3 linked regions of the Homo sapiens genome follow. The protein of the gene in region 1 purifies or fractionates together with the protein of each later gene. This does not show direct contact. Each region holds a gene or a part of one and is shown in the gene's direction. Other genes may lie near its edges. The genes, in order: SETMAR, TRUB1 and CAPG.

Region 1 (2,357 bases):
AGCCATCAGGGAACATGTTTATAATGGGCAGGTAATGGAAACATTTGTTGACCCTACTTATATAGGAAATATTGGAAGATTCCTTAATCATTCTTGTGAGCCAAACCTTTTGATGATTCCTGTCCGAATTGACTCAATGGTACCTAAGTTGGCACTTTTTGCAGCCAAAGATATTGTGCCAGAAGAAGAACTCTCTTATGATTATTCAGGAAGATATCTTAATCTAACAGTCAGTGAAGACAAAGAAAGGCTAGATCATGGGAAACTAAGGAAACCTTGTTACTGTGGTGCCAAATCATGTACTGCTTTCCTGCCTTTTGACAGTTCTCTGTACTGCCCCGTAGAAAAGTCGAACATCAGTTGTGGAAATGAGAAGGAACCCAGCATGTGTGGCTCAGCCCCTTCTGTGTTCCCCTCCTGCAAGCGATTGACCCTTGAGGTGAGTCTGTTCAGTGATAAGCAGCTTGCCCCTCCCTATAGTGGAAGACAGTGGTTGGCTAGCTTTACCTCTGCCTAGTTACATAAGTTTAACTCAGGAATGTGGCAGAGACTGCAAGTTGTCCATCAGTATCCTTTCCCCTTTCTGTAATAGAATTCTCCATTTAACAAAAGTACATGACTACCCAGAATACTCACTTTCCTAGTTAGATTTGTCTTAGTGACTGTTCTAGTTAATAGGATATAAGCAAAAATGACAAGTCCTTAAATGGAGATATCCTGCCCTTCACCTCCTCTTTCTTCCTGCTGGCTGGAATGTATACATGATGACTGGAACTGGAGCAGTCATCCTAGACCCCAGGATGACCCTGGGAAAGGAAGCCATTGCATAGAAAAATCAACAAGGTTAAAAGGAGTCTAGGTGTCTGGTACTGTAGAACATCCTGTCAGTCGTGATCTGACACCTTTGTACTTTCAGGTGAGAAATAGTCTCTCCCTTGCTTAAGTCACTGTTATTGTAAGTTTTCTAGCACTAACATCGAACCTAATAATGATCCAAGAAACCCTTGTGGCTGCATACCTAAACCCTGCTTGCCAACCAATTTTAACAGTAATAAAGCTGACTTTTTGATTTCTGTCTGACTCCTGCGTCCTACTTAATTGTTTCTAAGCATGGATCAAGGAAAAAGGCATTATTAACTATCACCTGCTAAAACCCTAATAAGTACTACCAGTAGTGAAAAATATAACTATGAAAATGACTTACATGTTGTAACCAAAAGTCAGAAAAAGAGACACATTGTAAATTTTTCATTTTCATTATATACTTGGCTGTACTCCAAATCTTGTGAAGTTATGCTTCAAAACTTCAAACAGCCTCACTTCATGTATAAATAACAGAAAAATAACCCTGTCCACACCACAGAAGGAGACGGGAGTTTTATGATCCCGTTTAAACTTCTAGAGCAGCAAACATCTCTAACTACCTTCCTTAAAGCAGGGATGTTGCAAAAATACAGTTACTGTGGAGGTTTATCAGACATTTTGAAAGCTAAAATAATTACTAGAGCCCCTATGATATTATTAAGTAATTTAATTTCTTCTCTAGTACATTTAAACCCTACCACTAGGAGGCCCTGCACTTTCAACATTATAGGAATCCATGTTATATATAACACTATTCCTCTGTAATATAAGTACATTGTACACTTTAAATGAGTGAAATATACAGCGTGTGAATTATATCTCAATAAAGCTAGGTCGTTTTTAAGTATCTTAGGGTTTATAATGTTCATATAACATTACATGGAATGGTTCCCTGTGAACAAATGGTACTAGAGTACACATAAAATGCCCCAAATTACAAATACATAGTATCAAAAATTTTCCTCCAAATTAATCATTTCTCCATGCCAACTGTCCTCTATTACTTCAATGCCTCTGAAGCAGTCCTGCTTTTAATAAGGCAGCTTGTATCCCTCACTCCAAAATGTGCTTTTTCTTGCTCACAAGCTCACCTAATAACTGAGCTGCTTCAGACGCAATATGGAAGTGGTTAGAAGGAAAATGATTGGCTCACCATTTGATTCTGCAGATACCCTTTTCTATGTCCTTTTGCCTTTCTATATTGAACAGCAGAGATATTCCCAGAGGACAATCTTCCATTCAGAGACAAGGACACAAACAGCCCCCTCCAACTCAGTGCCTCTGCCAGAGACAACTGACTGAATATGGACCCCTGGAAATTTTTTGTCCTCAGGCACTAGTTTATTATATAGCACTTAATCCTAGAAACCAGATTCCTAAGGTAAGAGTCAAAGAGTCTTTATTCCAAGTCTTTTCTAAGCAGCAAGTTAACTGCATTTGTTTGCTTCATTGCCATATTTTTGAGAATGTTGACACTTCTTTTGAGAGAAAAC
Region 2 (3,659 bases), on another chromosome or scaffold:
ATAAATAAACAAACATAAAATAGAAAAAAATCAGGCTGGGCACAGTGACTCATGCCTATAATCCCAGTACTTTGGGAGGCCGAGGTAGGTGGATTGCTTGAGCCCAAGAGTCCAAGACCAGCTTAGACAATGTGGCGAAACCCCATCTCTATAAAAAATTAAAAAATTAGCTGGGTGTGGTGACACATACCTATAGTCCCAGCTACTTGGGAGGCTGAGGTGGGAGGATCACTGGAGCCTGGGAAGTTGAGGCTGCAGTGATCTGTGATTGCACCACTGCACCCCAAAAAAACAAGCACAACAAAACAAAAACCCCAGTTAATAATAACAAGCATTTATTGAGCATTTACTGTATATAAGGTCTTCAGTTTTGGGTATTCATAAGTTCTATAGTTTAATTCTCATTGTAACCTATAAGAGAGGTTATTACTATCCCCATTTTACAGAAGAAGAAAGGAAGACCCTGAGAGATAAAGTAACATGTTCACTGTCATAGAATTAGTGAGTGACAAAGTCAGGATTTGAGCCCAGATCTGCTCAGTTCCAAATCATCTGCCCTATTGTGGATGGCAGATACCTGGTGCTCCTGCTTTTGTTCCTCATGCCCTGTGCTCTTGGCAGAAATTAGGGCTTCATGATTCTTACCAGCTTAGCACTTCAGTAGCCTATACCAGTTGATTAGAGTTGGCCTTTGAGTTGAAGCCTGTGTTTCTAACCCTTCTGCTTTACTGTTTTCCAGGCATGGCACCACAAATACAAGGAAAGAGAGGATCAGATCAGTTGCTTGTTTACGAATAGATCAATTCTATTAATTTCGGGTGGCGGTTCTTCATTGGCATGCAGAAAATAGTGATATTCAAGGCAGTGAATGAAAGTTTAGTTTTTACCCTGAACCTAAGGCTAGCTTGTCCAACCTTTGGCCTGTGGGCTGCACGTGGCCTAGGGCAGCTTTGAATGCAGCCCTACACAAATCTGTAAACTTTCTTAAAACATCATGAGTTTTTTTGTGATTTTTATTTTTTTTAAGCTCATCAGCTATCGTTAGTGTATTATGTGTGTGGCCCAAGACAATTCTTCTTTCATTGTGACCCAGGGAAGCCAAAAGATTGGACACTCTTGGCCTAAGGGATCTTGTTGAAGCTTCCATTTTAGTATTGTGAAGGGGCTGAGATTTGTATGCGTGGAAGAAATTGTATTGGAAACAGTTTTCTGGTTGGAGGCTCAATTTATATTTGATCACACAGGGAATTTTATGATGATATAATATGTTCATATGTCAGATGTATTAATTTTTCTTTTAATGCATGTGATTTCCGAGGAGAGAGAAAGTTTAAAAAATTGTAGGTGTTTAGTCACAGAGTAAGGGATGTTTGTTGTCCAAGTTAGCAGTTCTGGAAACTTATGAGAAGTCGATTTTTGATTGTGTGATAAAATAAACACTGAACTCTAATCATACTTCGGTTTGTACACTGGCTACTGGCTGCTTTAGTTACTAACTGTATACATCCTAAGAAAATCTCGTAACTTCACTGAACGTGTCTTCATCTCTTAAAAGAAGATAACGTCTACCAAAACTAAGTCAAAAGGTTTTCAAAAATATTTTACAAAATACCTATAGTATATAGATATATACTTTATCCTGTGAAGTGCTGTATACAGGTCTTTTTTATTTTTATTTATTTATTTTTTTGAGATGAGTCTTGCTCTTGTTGTCCAGGCTTGAGTGCGGTGGCGTGATCTCAGCTCACTGCAACCTCCACCTCCCAAATTCAACTGATTCTCCTGCTTCAGCCTCCTGACTAGCTGGGATTATAGGCGACTGCCACCATGCCCTGCTAATTTTTGTATTTTTAGTAGAGTCAGGGTTTCATCATGTTGACCAGGGTGGTGTTGGACTCCTGATCTCAAGTGATCTGCCCACCTCTGCCTCCCAAAGTGCTGGGATTACAGGTGTGAGCCACCATGCCCGGCCAAAAGGTCTTTTTTGAAACAAACAAACAAACAAACAAAACTAAAACTGGACCTATGCAAAAAAAATATACTTTTACTTTCAACATTTTTTTTTGCAATATTAATGGTGCAGATTAAGAATTTAGCTGACAATTTAAGATTATAACCTGAAATTCAGGTTTATAATTCTATAGCATAATTGCTAGAGGGTTCACAAGTTTCTCAAAAATACGTGGTAGGCAAAATAATGGCCCTCTAAAGGTGTCTGTGTCCTAATTTCCATAACCTGTGAATATATTAGGTTACATCACAAGGAACATTAGGGTTGTAGATGGAATTGATGTTGCTAATCAGCTGACTTTAAGATAGATTATCCTGGAATTTCCAAGTGGACCCAATGTAATCACAATATTCTTTAAAAGTGGAAGAGGAGGCAGAAGAGAGAGTCAGAGGAGATGTGGCAGTGGAAGCAGAGGTTGGAGTAATGTGGTTGCTGGCTTTGAAGAGTGAAGGGGATCACAAGCCAAAGAATGGGGGCAGCCTCTAAAAGCTGGAGGAGGCAAAAAAAAAAAGGTCCTCTACGGAGGCTCTAGTGAAGGATTCTCCCCTAGCACCTCCAGAGAAGAACACGGTCAAGCCAACCCTTTGATTTTAAGCCTAGTTAAACCTGTTTCAGGCTTCTCACCTCCCCAACTATGTGATAAAAAGTTTGTATTGTTTTAAGACAGATTGGTAATTTGTTAACAGTAGCAATAGGAAAGGAATACACCTATTTATCATAAATCACTTAAAATGTAAATAAAATTTCTATATACCATTTCAAAAAAATTTTTTTAACTTTAGAGGTTATAGAAACAGTGAGAAAATTTAGAAAATACAAGAAAGTTGCAAATAAAAAATTATCCATTTTCCACCTTTCATCAATAGTCAGTTAACATTTTTGCCATATTTCCTTGTAGCTTTTTGTCTATGCAGATTTTTAAAGTTGAGATCTACTTCACTGTGTATACTTATATATCCATTTTTTTAAACTTAACATTGTAACATAAACATTGTTCATGTTGATAAGCTCTTTGTAAACTTTATTTTTAATGGCTATAAAATGTTCCATCATATGGCTAAAATACCATTTATTAACCATTTCCCTATTTGAGGTCACTGAGGTTATCACCAGAGTTTTGTCAGAACTGATTTTGTGAGAGATGTCTTTATAGATAGAACTTTTTGTTTGTTTTGTTTTTAGTTTTTACCCACACATCTGTATCAGCCAGATGTTTCAGATTCTTAAAATAGATTCCTACGATTGGAAAGATACAGGTCTTGTAAGATGATCCTACAGAAAGCTGGAAATACATGTATAGAGTCCATGCCTGTCCTAAAGAGACTCTCATCATAAACAAATTCTATCTTTTTGATTTGAGAATGGGATACTAGGACATTGGATAAGTTTGGAGATAGTTATTTTTGTTTTTGTTTTTTTAACGGAAAAGACATTTGAGTGAGCACAGAACACTTGGGAGATAGAGTAGGAGAGTAGTAATTGTGCAACAGTGCATGGAAAACCCCGTTATTCATCTGCTCTCTAAATTCTCCACACCTTTTCAAATGTGGTGCCTTTGCTCATGTTTTTCTTTTATAAGCTGCTCATCTCTCTCAGCACCTTTGGTTGTAGAAGTCCTACTGACCTTTCCAGGTTCAGCTGAAATGCC
Region 3 (3,216 bases), on another chromosome or scaffold:
ACTACACGTGCTGAGACAAGGAAGGGGACAGGTGAACAGACCTCGCCATTACCAGAAAAGGAGAGGTGACAGGGGCTCTGCCTGGCAGGGCGGTGGGTAGAAGTGTGAGATGCTGCGCTCAAGGAGCCATTCAGCCATTCACCCATCCAGTCCTTCACTCAGTCAGTCAATATTTATTTTGCGCCTAAATCCATGCCGGGCTCTGTTTTAGCAGTGGGCCCACAGTGGTGAGCAAAGCCAAACAAAACCTTCATGTCCTAATGAAGCTCACTTTCTAGTAGGTGGAGATAGGTGGTTAAGAGACGTTTAAACATAGGAGATATGTGATGGGAAGAAAAATAAAGAGGTGCTGGGCGTGGCTGCTCACGCCTGTAATCCCAGCACTTTGGGAGGCCGAGGTGGGCAGATCACCTGAGGTCGGGAGTTCGAGACCAGCCTGACCAACATGGAGAAACCCCATCTCTACTAAAAATATAAAATTAGCCGGGCCTGGTGGCACATGCCTGTAATCCCAGCTACTCGGCAGGCTGATGCAGGAGGATCTCTTGAACCCAGGAGGTGGAGGTTGCGGTGAGCTGAGATTGTACCATTGCACTCCAGCCTGGGCAACAAGAGCGAAACTCCATCTCAAAAAAAAAAAAAAAAAAGAAAAAGAAAGAGGCTTGAGCCCAGCGGTTTGTAACCAGCCTGGGCAACATAGTGGGACCCCATTTCTACAAAAAATTAAGAAATTAGCCAGGCATGGTGGCAAGTGCTTATAGTCTCAGCTGCTTAGAAGCTAAGGTGCAACGATTGCTTGAGCCCATGACGTCAAGGCTGCAGTGAGCCATGATCACGTCTTTGCACTCCAGCCTGGATGACAGAGTGAGACCCTGTCTCGAAAAAAAGAAAGGAAGACAGATGGCAGGTGGGCAGAGAAACAGTTGCAGTGGGTGGTCGTGGGCATTTTCAGAGAGCCCTCTGTGCTGTGCTCTGCCTTCCTGGTTGTCCTGCCTCAGGGACAGTTCAGAGAGGAGAGAGGGAGAGCTGTGCGCCCTTCTCTGAGCTGGGGAGCAGGACACAGGCATCTGGCTCTGACCCGGACTTTCCTGCTTCCTTGCAGAACATCTTCGCCTGGTGTGGTGGAAAGTCCAACATCCTGGAACGCAACAAGGCGAGGGACCTGGCCCTGGCCATCCGGGACAGTGAGCGACAGGGCAAGGCCCAGGTGGAGATTGTCACTGATGGGGAGGAGCCTGCTGAGATGATCCAGGTTGGGGGACATTGGAGTGGGTGGCTGGGAGCCTCTGCTTGAAAGTGGCCAAGAGAGGTGGTGATGAGCTGAGGGCTGAGAGTGGCCGGTGGAGGGTGGCAGGGGCCATCTGGTGTACTGCCTAGGGCTGTGGCCAGCTCACAGGGTGCCCCTCTGGGTAGATGCTCGTCCTCGAGGCTGAGCAGCCTGGCTGGTGGGGTGGGCTGGACTCAGCCCTCACTCACCTCACCTCTGCTGGGTGCCCTAGTGCAGGGCGCAGTTTGCCCCACCAGAAGCAGTGGCCCTGGGCATGATGGGCTGGGAAGTTCCAGGGCAGGGGTCCCTATAAACCTGGCCTGCCCTGGCCCCTGCAGGTCCTGGGCCCCAAGCCTGCTCTGAAGGAGGGCAACCCTGAGGAAGACCTCACAGCTGACAAGGCAAATGCCCAGGCCGCAGCTCTGTATAAGGTGGGCCCCCCAAGCCTGCCCTGGGACCCGGCAGCAGGGAGGGTGGGAGCCTGCACAGCACAGCTGCATGCAAGCAGGGTGGAGGGGAGAAGGCAGGGGGAAGGTGGGGCTGGAACCGAGGTGGGAGGTGGGGAGTTATACAGGGCTGGGAGTGAGACAAGGATGGGGAGTGGGCGGAAGGCAGGCCCTCCTGAGGAGATGAGTGCACCTCACTTCCAGCCTATGCTTGGTGAAGGCTTGAAGCCAATGCTGAGCTTTTCTTTCTTGAATTCTGTGCATTTCTTTGTAATTTGGAATCCACCTAATTTCCAAATGGGTTCGGGGCCCCTGTGCTGCAGGGATTGGGGTGATGAGAGGGAGTGGGGCTGCCTGGAATTTGCTTTTCAGGTCTTCACTCTCTTGTCTGCTCCTGGGACCTGGGCAGTGGGCAGCGAGGCACAGTGGGAGGGACCTAGGGAGGACCAGCCTCCCCCTCCTCAGGCTGAGGTGAGGGCTGGTGTGTGGGGGGTGAGATCAGGCACTGTCCCTCCTCCCCAGGTCTCTGATGCCACTGGACAGATGAACCTGACCAAGGTGGCTGACTCCAGCCCATTTGCCCTTGAACTGCTGATATCTGATGACTGCTTTGTGCTGGACAACGGGCTCTGTGGCAAGATCTATATCTGGAAGGGTACGTGGCTCCTCTGTAACAGCCTGAGATGCCTGTAGCTGCTCTGACCCGGGCAGGCTTCCCTTTGCAGGACTCAGCCTGTCTAGCTGCTTGTAAAAGACAGCCTCAGGAAGCCTGCATGCTTCTGGCTGACCATTTTCTCTCTTTAAAAATTTTTTTTAAAAGATAGAGATGGGTTCTTTCTATGTTGCCCAGGATGGTATCAAACTCTCAGCCTCCAGTGATCTTCACCTTGGCCTCCCAAAGTGCTGGGATTACAGGCGTGAGCCATGGCATAGGCCTTGCTATTTTCTTTCTTTCTTTCTTTCTTTCTTTTTGAGAAGGAATCTTGCTCTGTTACCCAGGCTGGAGTGCAGTGGCACGATCTTGGCTCACTGCAACCTCTGCCTCCTGGGTTCAAGCAATTCTCCTGCCTTAGCCTCCCGAGTAGCTGGGAGTACAGGTGCGTGCCACCACACCTGGCTAATTTTTGTATTTTTAGTAGAGATGGGGTTTCACTACCAGGCTGGTCTCGAACTTCTGACCTCAAGTGATGCACCGGCCTCGGCCTCCCAAAGTGCTGGGATTACAGATGTGAGCCACTGCCTCGCCATTTTCTCTTTGCTGTTCCCACCTCCTAAATTCTAGACAATGGCTCTGAAACTACAGCAAGCCTCAGAATCACCCCACGGCCTGTTTAGATGGCTGGGCTCCACCCCCATAGATTCTGATTCACTAGGTCTGGAGTGGGGCAGAACATGCATCTCTAACAAGGTTATGGGTTATGTCTGTGCTGCTGGTTCCAGGGATCACACTTTGAGAACCACTGCCCTAGCCCAGCTCTAGACCTTTGGGGCTTCTGGGACCCC

What was found.
Region 2: the proteins of SETMAR (region 1) and TRUB1 purify together in Homo sapiens (affinity purification with mass spectrometry; one large-scale study listed by BioGRID and IntAct). This does not show direct contact.
Region 3: the proteins of SETMAR (region 1) and CAPG purify together in Homo sapiens (affinity purification with mass spectrometry; one large-scale study listed by BioGRID and IntAct). This does not show direct contact.

Annotation. Positions count from the first base shown.
Region 1 is NC_000003.12:4,313,323-4,315,679, forward strand, and holds part of SETMAR (histone-lysine N-methyltransferase SETMAR), read left to right. Parts: coding exon 1-439; coding exon of another isoform or gene 440-517; exon of another isoform or gene 518-1,073; intron 1,074-2,073; coding exon of another isoform or gene 2,074-2,166; exon of another isoform or gene 2,167-2,245; intron 2,246-2,357. UniProt on the Homo sapiens protein: Protein derived from the fusion of a methylase with the transposase of an Hsmar1 transposon that plays a role in DNA double-strand break repair, stalled replication fork restart and DNA integration.
Region 2 is NC_000010.11:114,944,670-114,948,328, forward strand, and holds part of TRUB1 (pseudouridylate synthase TRUB1), read left to right. Parts: intron 1-3,659. UniProt on the Homo sapiens protein: Pseudouridine synthase that catalyzes pseudouridylation of mRNAs and tRNAs. Mediates pseudouridylation of mRNAs with the consensus sequence 5'-GUUCNANNC-3', harboring a stem-loop structure. Constitutes the major pseudouridine synthase acting on mRNAs.
Region 3 is NC_000002.12:85,397,172-85,400,387, reverse strand, and holds part of CAPG (macrophage-capping protein), read left to right. Parts: intron 1-1,102; coding exon 1,103-1,252; intron 1,253-1,605; coding exon 1,606-1,698; intron 1,699-2,235; coding exon 2,236-2,368; intron 2,369-3,216. UniProt on the Homo sapiens protein: Calcium-sensitive protein which reversibly blocks the barbed ends of actin filaments but does not sever preformed actin filaments. May play an important role in macrophage function.